4 linked regions of the Homo sapiens genome follow. The protein of the gene in region 1 purifies or fractionates together with the protein of each later gene. This does not show direct contact. Each region holds a gene or a part of one and is shown in the gene's direction. Other genes may lie near its edges.

What was found. Proteins that work in one complex are often made in the same cells at the same time.
Region 2: the proteins of CFC1 (region 1) and POGLUT1 purify together in Homo sapiens (affinity purification with mass spectrometry; one large-scale study listed by BioGRID and IntAct). This does not show direct contact.
Region 3: the proteins of CFC1 (region 1) and CEMIP purify together in Homo sapiens (affinity purification with mass spectrometry; one large-scale study listed by BioGRID and IntAct). This does not show direct contact.
Region 4: the proteins of CFC1 (region 1) and CLSTN3 purify together in Homo sapiens (affinity purification with mass spectrometry; one large-scale study listed by BioGRID and IntAct). This does not show direct contact.

The regions. Positions count from the first base shown.
Region 1 is NC_000002.12:130,596,048-130,601,206, reverse strand, and holds the start of CFC1 (cryptic protein isoform 1 precursor), read left to right. Parts: upstream 1-1,631; 5' UTR 1,632-1,919; coding exon 1,920-1,942; intron 1,943-2,247; coding exon 2,248-2,297; intron 2,298-2,391; coding exon 2,392-2,565; intron 2,566-2,809; coding exon of another isoform or gene 2,810-2,991; exon of another isoform or gene 2,992-3,209; intron 3,210-3,224; coding exon 3,225-3,339; intron 3,340-3,603; coding exon 3,604-3,713; intron 3,714-5,159. UniProt on the Homo sapiens protein: NODAL coreceptor involved in the correct establishment of the left-right axis. May play a role in mesoderm and/or neural patterning during gastrulation.
Region 2 is NC_000003.12:119,474,908-119,479,395, forward strand, and holds part of POGLUT1 (protein O-glucosyltransferase 1 precursor), read left to right. Parts: intron 1-2,405; coding exon 2,406-2,541; intron 2,542-3,426; exon of another isoform or gene 3,427-3,567; intron 3,568-4,269; exon of another isoform or gene 4,270-4,488. UniProt on the Homo sapiens protein: Dual specificity glycosyltransferase that catalyzes the transfer of glucose and xylose from UDP-glucose and UDP-xylose, respectively, to a serine residue found in the consensus sequence of C-X-S-X-P-C.
Region 3 is NC_000015.10:80,946,315-80,950,802, forward strand, and holds part of CEMIP (cell migration-inducing and hyaluronan-binding protein precursor), read left to right. Parts: exon of another isoform or gene 1-650; coding exon 651-751; exon of another isoform or gene 752-2,482; coding exon 2,483-2,610; 3' UTR 2,611-4,488. UniProt on the Homo sapiens protein: Mediates depolymerization of hyaluronic acid (HA) via the cell membrane-associated clathrin-coated pit endocytic pathway. Binds to hyaluronic acid.
Region 4 is NC_000012.12:7,139,816-7,144,303, forward strand, and holds part of CLSTN3 (calsyntenin-3 precursor), read left to right. Parts: intron 1-1,426; coding exon 1,427-1,589; intron 1,590-2,270; coding exon 2,271-2,324; intron 2,325-3,053; coding exon 3,054-3,211; intron 3,212-3,347; coding exon 3,348-3,496; intron 3,497-4,488. UniProt on the Homo sapiens protein: Postsynaptic adhesion molecule that binds to presynaptic neurexins to mediate both excitatory and inhibitory synapse formation.

The DNA.
Region 1 (5,159 bases):
CTCATGCCAGTAATCCCAGCACTTTGGGAGGCCGAGGCGGGTGGATCACGAGGTCAGGAGATCAAGACCATCCTGGCTAACACGGTGAAACCCCGTCTCTACTAAAAATACAAAAAAATTAGCCAGGCATGGTGGTGGGCGCCTGTAGTCCCAGCTACTCGGGAGGCTGAGGCAGGAGAATGGTGTGAATCCGGGAGGCGGAGGTTGCAGTGAGCCGAGATTGCACCACTGCACTCCAGCCTGGGCCACAGAGCTAGACTCCGTCTCAAAAAAATAAAGTGTGTTTTTCACCGGACACGGTGGGTTTGTGCCTGTAATCCCAGCACTTTGGGAGGCAGAGGCAGGAGGATCGCTTAAGGCCAGAAGTTAGAGGACAGCCTGGGAAACATAGCAAGATCCCTATCTCTACAAAATAAAAAAAAAATTAGCTGGGCATAGGGGCGCGAGCCTGTAGTCCTAGCCACTCAGAGGCTGGGGTAGGAGGATCACTTAAGCCCAGAAGTTCGAGGATGTGGTGAGCTATGATCGCCCACTGCACTCCAGCCTGGCTGACAGAGTGACACTTTGCCTCTAAAAAACAAAATTAACAAGGTGTTTGTCTCATGACTTACAGCACTTACAGATGCTTGATGAAGTCCTGGGGCACCTTCCTCCATGTGCTCTGCCCACTCGGGTCTGCTGGCCTTGACCTGGTCCTTGCAGCCCACAGGACCCATTGCTGGGAGGCCCCCCAGGGTAGCCCGGTCCTCCAATTTCCTATTGCTTTATTTAACAGCCTCTTTAATAAACCTCACACGTAAAGATGTAAGAAATTAAATCACCATTAAAGACTATTTCAGCCTTGGAGGAAGAATACTATTTTTAGAAATGAGTTTTTATATTAAAATCACAGAACAATTTGCAACACTGGGTTGCAAAGTGTCTTCTTTAGTGCTGATAAAAGGGGCTCAGTCCCTATTCTGGTAGTTAGAAAAGCAGATTTAGAAGGTGCTAGAAAATACCCCAAATCACTCCTTCCTTGGGTTCCGTTTGGATTCAGCAGGCTCCTCTGGCGATGGGCGGGCGCCGCAGTTGCGCCTGTGCTCCTAAGGGCTCGCCTTAAATACCTGTGGGTATCTCCTCATCATATCGGTGCCATTCATGTTTCTCAGAGATCTAACTGCCAAAGGACTTAAACTCTCTAAGCCTCCCTTTCTCTCTTTTCACGTGGGGGATAATAATAGTGCCTACCCTAGAGGGTCCTATAGTAAATGGGGGCAGTGCCCCTCCCCCACTTGCTGGGCACAGAGAAGAGGCTCCATCTGCAGAGTAAGGGGGCCTCTCTTAAAGCAGGGGTGACGTGCTTTCCCTTATCCTCGTGTTCCCCACTCAGGGCGGCTGGGACCCCAGGCTGTTGCCTGTGCCCCACACAGGAGCTCCCTCTCCCACAGGGCCCCTCACCATCTCCCAGTACAAGTAGTATGCAGTAGAAAATCTCCACCTTCCTGTGAAAGCTTTTTGTTCATGTTGGGATTTTTTTTTTTTTCCAGTGAGAAAATGGCTCGTCACCTTGGATACCAATGTTTTACATCAGGGATTGGTCACTCCTGCTGCTGTCAGCACTGTAAACACTGCTGGGGGGAGTCAGCCCAAGTCCCCACCCCCCAGCCAGGTCTCATAGAGGGAATTGTTCTTCAGGCTCGGAGGGGCCTGCCTGTCACTGCGCCCCCGACCCTAGCTCAGGGACTGCAGAACTCAAGATACCATCCCGTTTCTCCTGGCTGAGGAAGGGAAGGGAACATCCACATCTTCTGTACTCGTCCATTCTGTGTCCCCGGGGCCTGGAGTAAAGACACCTTCAAATGCAGAGACTCTTCAGATTCAGCTTTCCTGGAAACTGATCTTCAATGCACTAAGAGAAGGAGACTCTCAAACCAAAAATGACCTGGAGGCACCATGTCAGGTAAGGACAGAGGTCATGAGATCTTAGAGCCAAGAAGGGGTCTTAAGAGCCTCAGAATAAATCGTAGTGCATGAGCCACTGTTCATTAAAGGAGGTGTACACTTTCTGTCTCAAAATCTTTCTAAGCCATAGCAAAATTAACAAAAACCTACAAGTTACAAAATGATTGCCTTATTCATTATAATTATTTTACATAATTTTATATTTATATATAATGATGGCATTGTATTTTTATGTGTATGTGAATTTCTGCTTATACTTCTAAAGATACTTTCAACTTCAATGATTTTCTTTAAATATTCTAGGCTTCTGTTTACGGTCAGTTTGGCATTACAGATCATCAATTTGGGAAACAGTAAGAAACATTTTATTCATAATTTCAGTTTTAATTGCATAAAATATTTGTTTCTCAATCATTATCAGTCTCACATTTTCAATATTTTTTAAAGGCTATCAAAGAGAGAAACATAACGGCGGTAGAGAGGAAGTCACCAAGGTTGCCACTCAGAAGCACCGACAGTCACCGCTCAACTGGACCTCCAGTCATTTCGGAGAGGTGACTGGGAGCGCCGAGGGCTGGGGGCCGGAGGAGCCGCTCCCCTACTCCCGGGCTTTCGGAGAGGGTAAGTTGCAGCGCTGCCCACAAAATCCGGGGCGTCATCTCAGTCTGCGGACTCAGAGTTTAGGACCTGAGAATATGTAGGATAAATTCAGGATAAAATCCAAGGAGAGCATTTTGTTATCTTCAAATGATGATGCACTTACAAAGCTATAAAGCTAGAGACAGTTCCTAGTGAGGTGTTAAAAAGCTTTACTCTTTCATTGGTAAAACGTTGTATTTGCTCTTCAATGGTTATTTTGCTGCAGATCTAGAGAACTGTGATTTAAATGTGTTGAAAATAAATATCCCAAGCCAAGATAACAGCGGACTCTTGCTTGGCTTCTCCCAGACACCGCGTCCCCAGGAGGCCCCTCGCCGGTGGGTTTGGCGTCATCACACCCGTGGGTGGTCCCGCCCAGGAGGCCTGTGCTTAATCACTGTCAGGTGAAGCCACAGCCAGAGGTTAACATGTGAAAGGAAGGGAGAGAGCAAGCCCGGCTTGCAGGCCGCACCCCTGATAGTTTGTTTCACATCCCTAACAAGCAGGGTTTACCTGAGCAAACACACTTGGCTGGAGGCTGATTTTACTGCCTCCCCTGGGCGGCCACGTTCGGCCCCGTCCCTGCGGGGAGGGCCACGGGCCGCGGGGGGCGCGGGGCTGACGCCCGGGTGACCCCGCAGGTGCGTCCGCGCGGCCGCGCTGCTGCAGGAACGGCGGTACCTGCGTGCTGGGCAGCTTCTGCGTGTGCCCGGCCCACTTCACCGGCCGCTACTGCGAGCATGACCAGAGGCGCAGGTGGGCACAGGGGTGCGCGGGGTGGGGACGGGGGTGGGCGCCGGGTGAGGGACCTGCGGGTCTGGGGGCGCGGGAGTAGGCGTCAGGAGAGGGGCGCGCGGGTGCGGGGGCGCGGGAGTGGGCGCCGGGCGATGGGCGCGCGGGTTGGGGGGCGCGGGAGTTGGCGCCGGGGGAGGGATGCGCGGGTGGGGGAGCGGCGCAGGAGTGGGCGCCGGGCGAGGGGCGCGCGGGCCACCGCATTGATGCAGGTCCCCGTCTTCTCAGTGAATGCGGCGCCCTGGAGCACGGAGCCTGGACCCTCCGCGCCTGCCACCTCTGCAGGTGCATCTTCGGGGCCCTGCACTGCCTCCCCCTCCAGACGCCTGACCGCTGTGGTAAGAGGCCCTGTGATTCGGTCCCCAGCTCACCCCCGCACGCGGTTGCGCCTTCATTGCGGCTCACCCTCCATACCGATCCACAGTGCATCTTCCAGTGCCAGGCCACATAGCATTTAGCAAAGTAGATCGATTCATCATTGAAGAAAGTCGCATTCATTGGGAATCATATAGTGAATTAAATTTTGTTTTGAAGTTCTCATATCCAGATTGCTGAGTTTAAAAATGATTTCCAAACCATGTCCTCACATGTCCGTTTCAGTGAGCAGAATTTCAGGAGATGACCAGCTGGTAATCGGAGAGGAAGCTGGGAGACAAGTTAGCTGCGTAAATCTCAGGTGGTTTCCCTGCACTAGGCCAGCACCATCTGCTCAGCTGTGGGACCAGCAGGGACACAGGCAGGAGCCGCATTTCCCTCTGGAATCCTGTGCCTTCTCTCCTCTCCTCTTTGGTGATCACTGGCTGGGGCTAGCAATGGAGGGCACAGCTAGTGAAGGCCCAGCCTCTTGGCCCCAGCCCGAGCTCTGCCCTCTCCCAGGCCCGGGTGGGCTGGTGGTGCAGTGTCCAGAGGCACACCTGATGAAGCCAAGGCCCCTGATCCACTCTCCTGCCCCCTCCCTCCACTTCAGTCAGCCCTGGGCACCTCCATCTGTCAAAGAGCACAGCCCCGCAACCCCACTTCCCACCTGTCGCTCTCAGGCCGTCCTGCTAGGGCTGCATGGAGGGCAGCACCAGTGGCCCAAAGATCTTCAACCCGGCTCCCCCAGCCTCCCTCTTGCTCTTGGAGGCCCACAATGGAGGAGTACACAATGCATGCTTAGCTCTCCTTCACCTTCCTGTCCTCTCTTCTCTCCCTGGTAGGACCAGCAGTCAAGGGACACTCTTAATAGAGGCACAGCCCCCAACCCCACTTCCCACCCTGCTCCCTTCTCCTCAGCTAGCTCTGCATGGTGCCAGCAGGGAAGAGCACTCCCCGCCTGCCGTGCAGACCACATTTTCCCAAAGCACCCCCTCTTCTATGTGTGCTCCTTTTGCTGGGCCTCTGCCTCTGAAGTCACCAGCTGCTCCTCTATGCCCTAGAGACAGGAGGACACAGATTTCATGGACAGGCATCAGAATCACAGGGGGTGCTTGTGTGGTCCTCACAGATGAAGTCAGTTCCCACCTGCCATTAGGCCGCCCCAGCAGGAATGTGGGGAAGGGACTAGCTGTCATGACTTCCAGGATATCTGGTCATGATTTTACATTCTTGGAAACATCCAGTGCTGGGACTGCTATTTGCCAAGGACAATGATAATGGCTCTGAAAATGTGGCCTCTGTTCATCAAAGCTAGACAAAATAGTGCAGTCATCCTTCAGAGTCATCTGTCAGGTGCAGAGAGGGCAGTAACACCTTTGTGTTCTTTTACCCATTCATCCTGCTTCAAGGCAAGTTACAGTGATGCT
Region 2 (4,488 bases), on another chromosome or scaffold:
AATGTATAAATTGTACTGCAATATTTTTTTACATTTTTTAACTAGTTTTTTTTTTCTTTTAGTGTCAAAGAGTATTACATACACTTTGGATATGTAAAATATCCAAATATTTTACCATGCTAAAATATTTGGATACCTCCAAAAGACATTCAGTGAAAAGGAAGTTTCTCTTCCACCTCAGACCCTCAGACTGCTAGTCCCTGAGACCTCTTTTCAAAAGACAATTAGAATTCTGTGTCTTGTATATCCTTCTAGAAATAGTCTGTACATTTACAAGCATCTAGACTCATCAACAAAATAAAACATGCTGTCTTCTGTTCTGCACTTAGATTTCTTTTCCATATAACAGTAGATTTTGAGATTGTTCCATAAGAGTCCATAGAGAATGCCTCACTTTTTCATGGCTGCATAATAACTTATTATATGGATTTCTTTATTCAGCCCTCTATCAGTGGACATTTAGATTATCCCTTACCACATCACTTTGCTTTTTGGATAACGCAAGCAATGCTGCAGTGAACATCCTTGTTACTGTGAACACTCATGTAAATATATATGTAGGCTAAATTCCTAAAAGTATAATAACTAGGGCAATTAATGTCATTTTAAAATCTTGATAAATAGGCTGGGTGAGGTGGCTCACGCCTGTTATCCCAGCACTTTGGATGGCTGAGACAGGCAGATCATCTGAGGTCAGGAGTTCAAGACCAGCCTGGCCAACATGGTGAGAACCTATCTCTACTAAAAATAAAAAAATTAGCTGGGCATGGTGGCCTGTGCCTGTAATCCTAGCTACTCGGGAGGCTGAGGCAGGAGAATCACTTGAAACCCGAGGTGGAGGTTGCAGTCAGCTGAGATTGCGCCATTGCACTCCAGCCTGGGCCACAGAGCAAGGCTCCATCTCAAAAAAAAAAAAAAATCTTGATAAACAGGCTGGGCACAGTGGCTCTCACCTGTAATCCCAGCACTTTGGGAGGCTGAGGTGGGAGGATCACTTGAGCCCAAGAGTTCAAGATCAGTCTGGACAACATACCAAGACTGTCTCTCCACACACACACACACACACACACACACACACACACACACAAACACATACAGAGTTGCCAGGTGTGTTGGCACACACCTGTAGTCCCAGCTACTCAGGAGGCTGAGGTGAGAAGATTGCTTGAGCCTAGGATTTTTGAGGCCACAGTGAGCCATGATCATGCCACTGCACTCTTCAGCCTGAGTGGCAGAGCGAGAGACCCTGCCTCAAATAAAAAAAACCTTAAAAAAAGAGAAATCTTGGTAAATAGAATCTAATTGTCCTACAAAGAGGCTAAACACTTCCACAACCGATATATCATATGCTGTGAATAGATCTCACACCCTTACCAACACTGCACTATTGGACTTTTTGATCTTTGCCAATCTGATTGGTAAAATTGGTATCTAGTTTCATTGACATTTCTTTATTATTAATACAGTTGAGCATCTTTTCCTATGTTTGTGAACTGTTGATATTTTTTGCAGTTATCTCCCTATATAAAAAACACTTTTTTTTTTTTTGGCTAGAGGAGCTCACTACATTGCCTACTGTGTCACTATGTTGCTGGTCTAGAACTCTTGGGCTCAAATAACCCTTCTGCCTAAGTCTCCCAAGTAGTAAAACAATATTTTAAATCAGTTATTTCCATGCTGCCAGAAAATTTTGATCAAGCCTTTGAATATTGCCCCTAGCATAGTGCTGGTCAGGACCTCAGAGGATGAGGCAGAAACAAGCTAAACTGTCAGTGTATCTTCTTTTTCTTTCAAGAAATCCCTGATTTCCCAGGGAATCTAGTCAGAAAGCTGTGTTACACTATTTATGATTATGTATATAACACTTTTTCTGGCTTGCAGAACTGATTTTGATAATGTTCTTTATTCAGGTTGAAGGTAATGAAAGGTTTTCTATCTGTTCTCATAAACTAGGAGACTTAATTATAATGGAAATAAAAATGGTGTCTTTGTGAGGAGCAAAGCCAAAGGAACACAGGTGGAAAATTAGCTATTTCAGCTATTACGAGAGTTTGTATCTTGTCTACTAATTAAACTATTCCATATAAGGGAAATAAAGAAAAGAACTGGAATGAATAAAGTGGTAGAAGTAGCAATAATACTCCCTTCAAAGCTATGACGATTTATTTGGAAAATTTTATTAAGTATTGTAAGCTGGAGCAGCTTAGCTATGAGTGAACTTGCACAATACAAAAAAGCAGAATAGCCCCTTTAGAAGCATTGTTTTCAGGAGACTTTGCAGTAGACTGATGATATGGAACACTGGAACACTGGCTTGTCTTACTTTAAAATGTGAATGGGACCTCGCCTTGTCCTAGAGCCTGCAGGCACTACTCTGCTGAATTTATGGTATGTCTGGTTGACAGGTGTAGTGGTGTTGAGCACTTTATTTTGGAAGTGATCGGGCGTCTCCCTGACATGGAGATGGTGATCAATGTACGAGATTATCCTCAGGTTCCTAAATGGATGGAGCCTGCCATCCCAGTCTTCTCCTTCAGTAAGGTAAGTACAGGGAGAGCCACATGGGTGGATGGAGAGTGGTCCTCTAGGATATGAGCATGAGATCTTTGTCCGGTGACATAGTCTGATGGATAATGGTAAGGATGAGGACTGAGGTCCAGAAATGGGTCTGTGTCTCTATTAGCATCACAGTGATTGAGCAAAAAGACAGAGGAGATGAAGTTGAGAGCTGGTAAGTAGTGTAAGATTGCTTGAGTGTCTATAGGGCTAGAGATGGAGGCTAGGGCGTGAGAGGCCTGAGAAACCTACAGGAATTAGAGGTGGGTCTTGAAGATCTTACAGAGCATGGGAGGAAGGGGTCCAAGAAAGCTTGGAGTTAGGGAACACCTTCATTCCAAAAGTTTGTTGAGCTCCTACTATGTATATATTCAGCCATAGTGCTGGGTATCAGCTGTCCCATCTGTCACCATATTCCGGGGGCCCAGGGTGGCTAAAAGTGAACCTGAAGGTGCCAGATAACTCCACACGGTGTGTGTACAAGCCGTGCATTGAAGGGATAGGCTGGAGATAGCCTAGAGGGCTATGCAAGGGGGTGATCTTTTAGACTCATCATGGAAGATTGGAGTAGCTAGGATACACCTGTGGGCTTGGGGAATTGGGGGCAAGGAATGTCTTGTCAGTGCTCAGGTTCATGTAAATGTTGTATCGGCAGGGATGGGCCTTGGTTCCCTAGAGACAAGGAAAGCATTTGGGGGTGAAGGCAGGAAGGCTAGAAGAGAGTGGATGGAAGATTCTATGGGGTAAGAGTGAATTGAGGAAAACCCCATGAAATTTGGGAAAAGGAACACTATTTCTGATTTGGTTTGTCTAAAGCAGAGGGACCTTTTATCCCCACTTTTTCTTTATCATAGTTTACTTTCTCCCTAGACTTGTTTTATTTCCTGTGTTGCAAGTGGGCAGAGGCCACATTTGTGTTGCATTTCCCATGGTCTAGCCTCATTTCTCGAAAGTGTTTGGTTCCATTGTTTGTCATGAAACTCACTCAGAAGAACAGATAGAGGCTCCCATGTAAGTCAGTAGGGACTTCGTGTTTGTTATCTATCTGTTGTTTCTATGGATAATAAAGTATGACCGTCGGTATACTAACTTTCCGTTCATCTTTACTTCCCTTCTGTTTTTTAAATCAGTGACTTCTAGTTTCCAAGGGAGAGTTTTACTCTGTCAACTTTATAGTTAATTGTGCAGCTTCTATTGAATAGCTGTTATGTTTAAGGTGCTTGATGAATCACATTTTTTACATATTTGAGAGACAGCAAACAGCATATTGCACATGTATTTCCAGTGGAAGAAATAGTAGAGTTAGAGGTTTATCAGTGGCCAGATTTTTAACAGAAGTAACCATAAAAAGGGAACAAATGGAGGCCAGGTGTAGTGGCTCACACCTGTAATCCCAGCACTTTGGGAGGCCGAGGCAGGTGGATCAAAAAAAAAAAAAAAAGGGGGGAACATATGGCTTTAAACTTTTTTCTTTTTTTTGAGGCAGAGTCTCACTCTGTTGCCCAGGCTGGAGTGCAGTGGCGCGATCTCAGCTCACTGCAACCTCCACCTCCCAGGTTCAAGTGATTCTCCACCTCAGCCTCCTGAGTATCTGGGACTATAGGCACCTGCCACCATGCCCGGCTATTATTTTGTGTGTATTTTTTAGTAGAGACAGGGTTTCACCATGTTGACCAGGCTGATTTCAAACTCCTGACCTCAGGTGATCTACCCGTCTCGGCCTCCCAAAGTGCTGGGATTACAGGTGTGAGCCACCGTGCCCAACCTCAAACTTCTTTCAAAAGATATGTGATAACACCCCTTCTCATTTTGCTCATCCATACTTCTGACCCCGATCAGTGAATAACCAAGAATTTATTGACCAATCAATGTGAGCCCAACAGTGCCATAGTATGAGATAACACTAGCCAATATTTATCAAGTATGTACAAT
Region 3 (4,488 bases), on another chromosome or scaffold:
AATGTATACATGATCACCTGCAGATCTTGTAAAAATGCAGATTCTGATTCAGGAAGTCTGCAATGGAGGAATTCTGTGGTTCTAATGAAATCCCAGGGGATGCCAAATGGAGCTGGTCTCTAGAACCTTCAGGATCTAGAACCTTCAGGAGCTCCTGGATGGTTTTATGATTTGACAGATGCTCCCCTCCGCCTTCCCGCACCTCCTCTCTTTCTCTTCCCTTTCTCCTTCCTTCCTCCATCACCACATTTCTATCTGGTCTTACCTAACCAGGGTTGAGAACATTCAAGGGAAGAGATACATATCGAAGTCCTACTGTGTGCCGAGCCCTGGCATGGTACGCTCTGCTTACATCCTCTCCTCTGTTTGGAGAGAGACATGTAAACGCGGTGAGCCAAGTCCAGGCTTGGAGAAGGCTGTGGGCACCAACTGTGGCCAGATGTGTGGGAGGGAGCTCAGGATGTTCGTCACCACATGGAAAGAGCCCGTCAGCTCAGAACACAGGAGAGGCTGCCCTTTCCCGAATCCCTGGACAGGCCTCTGGGCACTGCTAACTCCAGTCCCACCATGCACAAACCAACATCCCTCCCCATGCCCACTTTCTCCAGTTTGCTCTCTCCCTCTGGTCTAATTGGTTTCTTCTCACACAGTTCCATAGTGCTTATGGCATCAAAGGGAAGATACGTCTCCAGAGGCCCATGGACCAGAGTGCTGGAAAAGCTTGGGGCAGACAGGGGTCTCAAGTTGAAAGGTAAGGGTTTGAACTGGGGTTTAAACTGACCCCAAAACCAGAGAAGGCAAATGCCTGGCATGGAGGGTGCTGTCATCTTTTGCTGAGTTGAGAACATGCTTTGTACTAAACGTGGGTACAACCTAAGAATCCCCCACACAACTAGTGGTCTACTGGAATGGATGGGCAAGATGCCACCTGTTTACCACCCCTGCACTGCAGCAAATTTATTATAACTTGCCACCAGCCACTGAAAGAAAATTGCTATATTTGTTGACTCATTTGCTTGGAAAGTGGCCCTTTATTCAACAAAAGTATCATAAGAAAAGTGGCTTAGTCTCACCCTCCTACCCAATTCCTGCTATTCAGACTGGCCAGGGGTCCTGCATCTTCTTCAACATTCTAGCTGATGCCTAGCGTTTGTACAGTCCTTTGCAGCTTGCAAAACTCTTATTTGTTCCAGAAAACTAAAGCCCAGAGAACCTACATGGCTTGTCCAAGGCCAGGCAGCTTCGGTGGTGAAGCCTAGCACAGGCTTGCTGGCTGTGCTGGAAGAAGCCATCCAGGAGGGACATGTCAGCATGACACCCATTATCATCACAAAAACTAGGTGCAGGGAGAGTCCTCAGAGAGGCTGTATGGGCGGCAGAGAAGCTCCACGGGCAATAATGATAATGATCATTGTGGTTGCTATTCAATGTTCAGCCTTGCACTTTGCACAACATGTTATAATTATCTCACTTACTCATTAATAACCTGTGCAGCAGGTACTATTATTTCCATTTAAGATGAGGACACCAAGAATTTAACAGCCAAGCCACTTGCTTAAGGTTAGGACTTGGATCCTAATCTTCCTAACTCAAAGCTGGGCTTCTTAGTTATACACCATCCTCACTATGGAAAACATCAAAATCAGAAACCCATCATATGGGGCAATGAGAAAAATCAGAAGCAATGCAAACCCTTCAAACCAGCCAAAGGAGGACATAAGGAAAAGAGAAGTATCCTTTCCAGCCCAGTCCTGAAATCATTTTGGAGCCTCTGTCTTTTAAATTAAGATCCCGGTTGCCAAAAGCTGATGTATGTAAGGTGACCTAAGTTGAATGGCACTTTCCCGGTGGTGATAAATGCATGTTGCCTGCCAAGATGGGCTGAGTATAGACGTGGATTCCCATGCCCCTCGGATGCTCAAGCTGTGAACTGCAAGATGGAGAGTGCTGTGTGGGTTTCAGGGGTTTAGAGTTCTAATCTGGGGTGCACCATTTACTCCACACTCTTGGTCAAATTTCTTCACCTCTCAGAACTCTTTCTAGAGCCACAGAGTGATAGAGTGGGGAAGGAGATCTTGTAGATCAATGCCATCATTTGATGGATGGGAACACTGGGCTTCAGAGAGGGGCAGGGACTTGCTGGTTGTCCTAGGGGCAGCTCAAAGGTAGGCAGGTTCCTAGGAGGTCTCCTCCCTTACAGTTTGCCCCATTTCCTGCTGTGCATGGCTCCCCTGTCTACAACAAAGCCATCACCCTGCCTAGGTGGCAGTGAGGCTCAGGTGAGACCCTGCCTGCCCCATACAAACACATGTCAGGCACCATCAGTAGCTGAGCACAGAGCTCTTCCCAAGGGGCCACAGTGCAGTGTGGCTAGGCGGTACCTGGTGGGCGTGGGGGGCTGGCGATGGGGAGCCATGGAACGGGGTGGGGCAGCCGTCCTCTCATAGGGCTTTTGCTCAGGAGACTCATCATTGCTTTTCAGAGCAAATGGCATTCGTTGGCTTCAAAGGCAGCTTCCGGCCCATCTGGGTGACACTGGACACTGAGGATCACAAAGCCAAAATCTTCCAAGTTGTGCCCATCCCTGTGGTGAAGAAGAAGAAGTTGTGAGGACAGCTGCCGCCCGGTGCCACCTCGTGGTAGACTATGACGGTGACTCTTGGCAGCAGACCAGTGGGGGATGGCTGGGTCCCCCAGCCCCTGCCAGCAGCTGCCTGGGAAGGCCGTGTTTCAGCCCTGATGGGCCAAGGGAAGGCTATCAGAGACCCTGGTGCTGCCACCTGCCCCTACTCAAGTGTCTACCTGGAGCCCCTGGGGCGGTGCTGGCCAATGCTGGAAACATTCACTTTCCTGCAGCCTCTTGGGTGCTTCTCTCCTATCTGTGCCTCTTCAGTGGGGGTTTGGGGACCATATCAGGAGACCTGGGTTGTGCTGACAGCAAAGATCCACTTTGGCAGGAGCCCTGACCCAGCTAGGAGGTAGTCTGGAGGGCTGGTCATTCACAGATCCCCATGGTCTTCAGCAGACAAGTGAGGGTGGTAAATGTAGGAGAAAGAGCCTTGGCCTTAAGGAAATCTTTACTCCTGTAAGCAAGAGCCAACCTCACAGGATTAGGAGCTGGGGTAGAACTGGCTATCCTTGGGGAAGAGGCAAGCCCTGCCTCTGGCCGTGTCCACCTTTCAGGAGACTTTGAGTGGCAGGTTTGGACTTGGACTAGATGACTCTCAAAGGCCCTTTTAGTTCTGAGATTCCAGAAATCTGCTGCATTTCACATGGTACCTGGAACCCAACAGTTCATGGATATCCACTGATATCCATGATGCTGGGTGCCCCAGCGCACACGGGATGGAGAGGTGAGAACTAATGCCTAGCTTGAGGGGTCTGCAGTCCAGTAGGGCAGGCAGTCAGGTCCATGTGCACTGCAATGCCAGGTGGAGAAATCACAGAGAGGTAAAATGGAGGCCAGTGCCATTTCAGAGGGGAGGCTCAGGAAGGCTTCTTGCTTACAGGAATGAAGGCTGGGGGCATTTTGCTGGGGGGAGATGAGGCAGCCTCTGGAATGGCTCAGGGATTCAGCCCTCCCTGCCGCTGCCTGCTGAAGCTGGTGACTACGGGGTCGCCCTTTGCTCACGTCTCTCTGGCCCACTCATGATGGAGAAGTGTGGTCAGAGGGGAGCAATGGGCTTTGCTGCTTATGAGCACAGAGGAATTCAGTCCCCAGGCAGCCCTGCCTCTGACTCCAAGAGGGTGAAGTCCACAGAAGTGAGCTCCTGCCTTAGGGCCTCATTTGCTCTTCATCCAGGGAACTGAGCACAGGGGGCCTCCAGGAGACCCTAGATGTGCTCGTACTCCCTCGGCCTGGGATTTCAGAGCTGGAAATATAGAAAATATCTAGCCCAAAGCCTTCATTTTAACAGATGGGGAAAGTGAGCCCCCAAGATGGGAAAGAACCACACAGCTAAGGGAGGGCCTGGGGAGCCCCACCCTAGCCCTTGCTGCCACACCACATTGCCTCAACAACCGGCCCCAGAGTGCCCAGGCACTCCTGAGGTAGCTTCTGGAAATGGGGACAAGTCCCCTCGAAGGAAAGGAAATGACTAGAGTAGAATGACAGCTAGCAGATCTCTTCCCTCCTGCTCCCAGCGCACACAAACCCGCCCTCCCCTTGGTGTTGGCGGTCCCTGTGGCCTTCACTTTGTTCACTACCTGTCAGCCCAGCCTGGGTGCACAGTAGCTGCAACTCCCCATTGGTGCTACCTGGCTCTCCTGTCTCTGCAGCTCTACAGGTGAGGCCCAGCAGAGGGAGTAGGGCTCGCCATGTTTCTGGTGAGCCAATTTGGCTGATCTTGGGTGTCTGAACAGCTATTGGGTCCACCCCAGTCCCTTTCAGCTGCTGCTTAATGCCCTGCTCTCTCCCTGGCCCACCTTATAGAGAGCCCAAAGAGCTCCTGTAAGAGGGAGAACTCTATCTGTGGTTTATAATCTTGC
Region 4 (4,488 bases), on another chromosome or scaffold:
TTTTTGTATTTTTAGTAGAGATGGGGTTTCACCATGTTGGCCAGGATGGTCTTGATCTCTTGACGTGATCCACCCACCTTGGCCTCCTAAAGAGCTAGGATTACAGGCGTGAGCCACTGCGCCTGGCCAGATTTACATTTTAACAAGATCCCCTTGGCAACTGTGGGATGGTTGTATTGAAGGTATCTAATGGTGACAGTAAACAGGACTGTTGCAACAGTCTTCATGAAAGGGGTTGGAGACATGACTGATGTGTGGCAATGGAGACGGAGAGACCTGCACAGAAACCTGCAGCTTGTAGCTCTGTTTGGACCTGGGATCAACAGCACCTGCTAATGGACTGGATGTGGAGGCTGAGGGAAAGGGAAGATCAAAGTTGTCTCCTACGTCAGCCACTTGAGCAGCTAGATGGATGATGGAGCATTTATACTGCCTGGGGAGAAACTGAGGGAGTTGGGAAAGGGCATGGACTTGCACCTTACACGTGTTAAATGTGAGATACTTGTGGGCATCCAAGTGGAGAATCTGGCATTCAGAGGAGAGTTATGGGCTGGAGATGTGGATTTTGGAGTTACCAGTGTATAACTATGGTACCCAAACCCATGGCAACAGATGAGGTGACTTCTAGGAAAAGAGTGTAGAGAGGAAAGAGAAGAGGGCCTAGGTCTGAGCCTTGAGGGACCCCAACATTTGGAACTGGATGAGGCAGAGTACTCTCTGCCCCTTTTTCCTCTGACCATCCCCCATTCCATCTTGGCTGGCCCTAGGAGAGACTGCAAAGGGAAGCAATATTTATTTTAGTGCTTAATGTTGGGTTAGAAGCTATCCTAGAGATAACCTGTGATCCCAGCTACTTGGGAGGCTGAGAGGATCACTGGAGGCCAGGAGTTGGAGACCAGCCTAGGCAACATAGTGATAGCTCATCTCTAAAAAATAAAAAAATTAGCTGGACATGGTGGCACATACCTGTAGTCCCAGCTACCCCAGAGGCTGAAGTGGGAGGATTGCTTGAGCCGAGGGGTTTGAGGCTTCAGTGGGCTATGATTGCACCACTGCACTCCAGCCTGGGGGACAGAAGGAAACCCCATCTCTAGAGTTTCCAGTGCCTTACACACATATGTAATACATAAGTTCGGGGGGCAGGGAATTTATTCATGAAAGTGTGTTACTCCTCTTAGGAATATTTATAGCTTTAACGATTTACCTGAAGAGTGGAATCTTTGCTACTAGGTTGGTTGCCTGATAGATTTTGGACAAGGATGTTATTCCTCGAGCTGGATAGGCAGCAAAGCACTAGTAAGCCCTGTTGGTAGAACTGGGAATAAAGGGACTGTCCCCTGTCTCCCAGGAGATGGGGCAGTGCCTAGGGTTAGCTCTCTGAAGACGAATTACCTGAGAGGCTCTTGCCCCTACCCTACTCTCCCAGGTCTGTGATGATGAGTGGCACCACTACGCTCTGAACCTCGAGTTCCCCACAGTCACACTCTATACCGACGGCATCTCCTTCGACCCTGCCCTCATCCATGACAATGGCCTCATCCACCCACCCCGAAGGGAGCCTGCTCTCATGATTGGGGCCTGCTGGACTGGTAAGCTTCTCAGTGAAGACTCCAGTGGTTCAGGATTTGGGAAGGGAGGTAGGCTGGTGAGGAGCAAGGGCAGTCTGACCCAGCAGCTGAGGCCGCCTCCTGCATCTCTCTGCAGCTGTGCAGGGTGACTCTGAAGATCTCCATGGGAAGGGACCACAGCCTCCCTCCCGTATCTCCCACTAATCCAATGGGTCATCACCTCTGACTTGGAGGAATTAACTTCTCACGCATCCCCAGACTCTCTCTCTGTAACTCCAGCCAGTTTCCACTTTTTTCCATCAAAGTGATGATGACTTCCATAGCCCATTCCCCTGCTCAAGGAGAGTAACCCCTTAGAGTGTCCTCGGTCTTCCAACTTTTAAGCCATTGAAAAAATTTTTCTCCTCTTGGGAGTGTGTGTGTGCACATGTGCCTGTCTGTCTTACCAGAGCCCACGTGTTTCCTCAGCAGCATATCGTATTTGGGGGTTTGTCTATAATAGAGGCTGGAGAGGTTGGAACATGACAAAAGAAGGGTTGGGGCTGAGCTGAGAGGTTGCAAGTTATACATGGGCAGGGTCAGAATCCCATGTGGGCATGAGAGCACTCATGGGGATGAGAGGAAGACATCTCATTCCTCTCTGTCAATCTCTCCACATCCCTGAGCTCACCAGCACTGTTTTTTTTTTTTTTTTATCCCCAGAGGAGAAGAACAAAGAGAAGGAAAAGGGAGACAACAGTACAGACACCACCCAAGGTACTCCGTGTGTAAGAACTGGAGACCAGAGAGTTCTCATCTTCACTTTCTGTTCTGAGATCCCTTTTCCACCCCAAATCCTATCCAGCCTGTGACAGCCTCCTAGGCCACCAGGGGGCAGAGCCTCCAAGAAATACAGCAGGGCAGGGGCTCCTGGAGTGGTAAGGCTAGAGGCAGCTTGGCTGGGTTCTGGGTATCCTGTCCTGCCCACAGAATGAAGAATGGGGCTCTCTTGGTGGCTTTCCACATGGTAGAAGGGAGGTGGCAGGAGTCAGGAGTCAGACACGCAGAAGGGGAAGGTCTGGGCATCTGTGAAGCTCGCTCACATCCATCCTGGTCTCCCTGCATGTCACTGGAAAGACGTTCTCTCCTGCCGCCTCCCCCTCCCTCCTTGTTTTGACTCTTTCCTCCTGTTGGTCCTGTTTCCTTCTCTTCCTCCCTCTCATCTTTGTTGCTTCTACTTTTCACCCTTCTTCTTCTCCCCTGGCTTTATTCTGTCTTCTTTTGTCTCATTTTCTCCCTTCTCTAGCCTCCCCCCTTACCTTCACTTCTCCCTCACCTCTCATCTCTCTTTTTTCCTTTTTTTTTTTTTTTTTGGTTTCCACATTTCTCCTTTTTTTCTTTCTCAACTCTTCTGCTCTTTCTCTCCTTTCCCTTTCTCTCAGCCTTCGTCCTTTTCCATCCTCCTCTCTTCTCACCTCCCGTCCTGCTCCTGTGTTCCTACCCTAGGAGACCCTTTGTCGATCCACCACTACTTCCATGGCTACCTGGCTGGTTTCAGCGTGCGCTCAGGTCGCCTGGAGAGCCGCGAGGTCATCGAGTGCCTCTATGCATGTCGGGAGGGGCTGGACTATAGGGATTTCGAGAGCCTGGGCAAAGGCATGAAGGTATTGCCCCATCCTCTAGCCCTGTTCTTCCCAGCATGCCCCTTGCCCCACCCCCTTGCCCTACCCCTCTACCTCTGCTCCCTTCCTCTGCCACCTCCTGGCCCTGCTCTCAGCTGTATCTGTGTCTGGGGCCCAGGTCCACGTGAACCCCTCACAGTCCCTGCTCACCCTGGAGGGGGATGATGTGGAGACCTTCAACCATGCCCTGCAGCATGTGGCTTACATGAACACTCTGCGCTTTGCCACGCCCGGCGTCAGGCCCCTGCGCCTCACCACTGCTGTCAAGTGAGTGTTGGGTGGGGCAGGGCAAATCACCAAGCAGAGCCAGACAGTGTCACAGCTCCTTGGCCTAAGGCGTCACCTAGAGCTAGGCATACCTCTTTTGTTTTATGGATGAGGAGATTGGGCCCTCAAATGGAGACAATTGACCACTGAAGGTCACATAGCAATATTGGTAGAAGAGTCTGGACTATACTCAGATTTCTCAACAATCAATCTGTTACTCTTTCTACCAAGTCACACATCTAGGGTTTCCGGGCTTTGATCTTCTCTATGCCTCTGTGCTGATACGTAAAGTGGGACACAGGATTGGGAGTGGGGAGACCTGACATTAATTCTGACTCAATGCGAATTGCTTGGATAACCTCGGGCAAATGGTGAGTCCTGGCTGCTTCACTTGTTTTAATCTTGCTTCACCAAGCTCTTGCAAGGTCACGTACGATGGCCTAAGTCTGGGGGTTGGCAGTCCTAGGCCAAATCTGGCCTGCCCACCTGTTTTGTAGTTTTATTGGAACACAGCAGTGCCCATTCATTGCATATGTCTATGGCTACTTTCACTGTGATGGCAGAACTGTGGGTAGTTGGGACAAAGATCATATGGCCCCCTCAAACAGAACTATCTAATCCTTCATAGAAAAAGTTTGCTGGCCGGGCACGGTGGCTCACGCCTGTAATCCCAGCACTTTGGGAGGCCAAGGCAGATGGATCACGAGGAGTTCAAGACCAGCCTGGCCAACATGGTGAAACCCTGTCTCTACTAAAAATACAAAAATTAGCTGGGCATGGTGGCACGTGCCTGTAATCCCAGTTACTTGGGAGGCTGAGACAGGAGAATTGCTTGAACTGGGACCCAGGAGGCGGAGGTTTCAGTGAGCCGAGATTGCACCACTGCACTCCAGCCTGGGCTACAAAGCGAGACTCCATCTCAAAAAAAAAAAAAAAAAAAAAAAGTTTACTGACCTCTGAATTCTAAGTGAATGACTTTTGGAGTCTTTAAA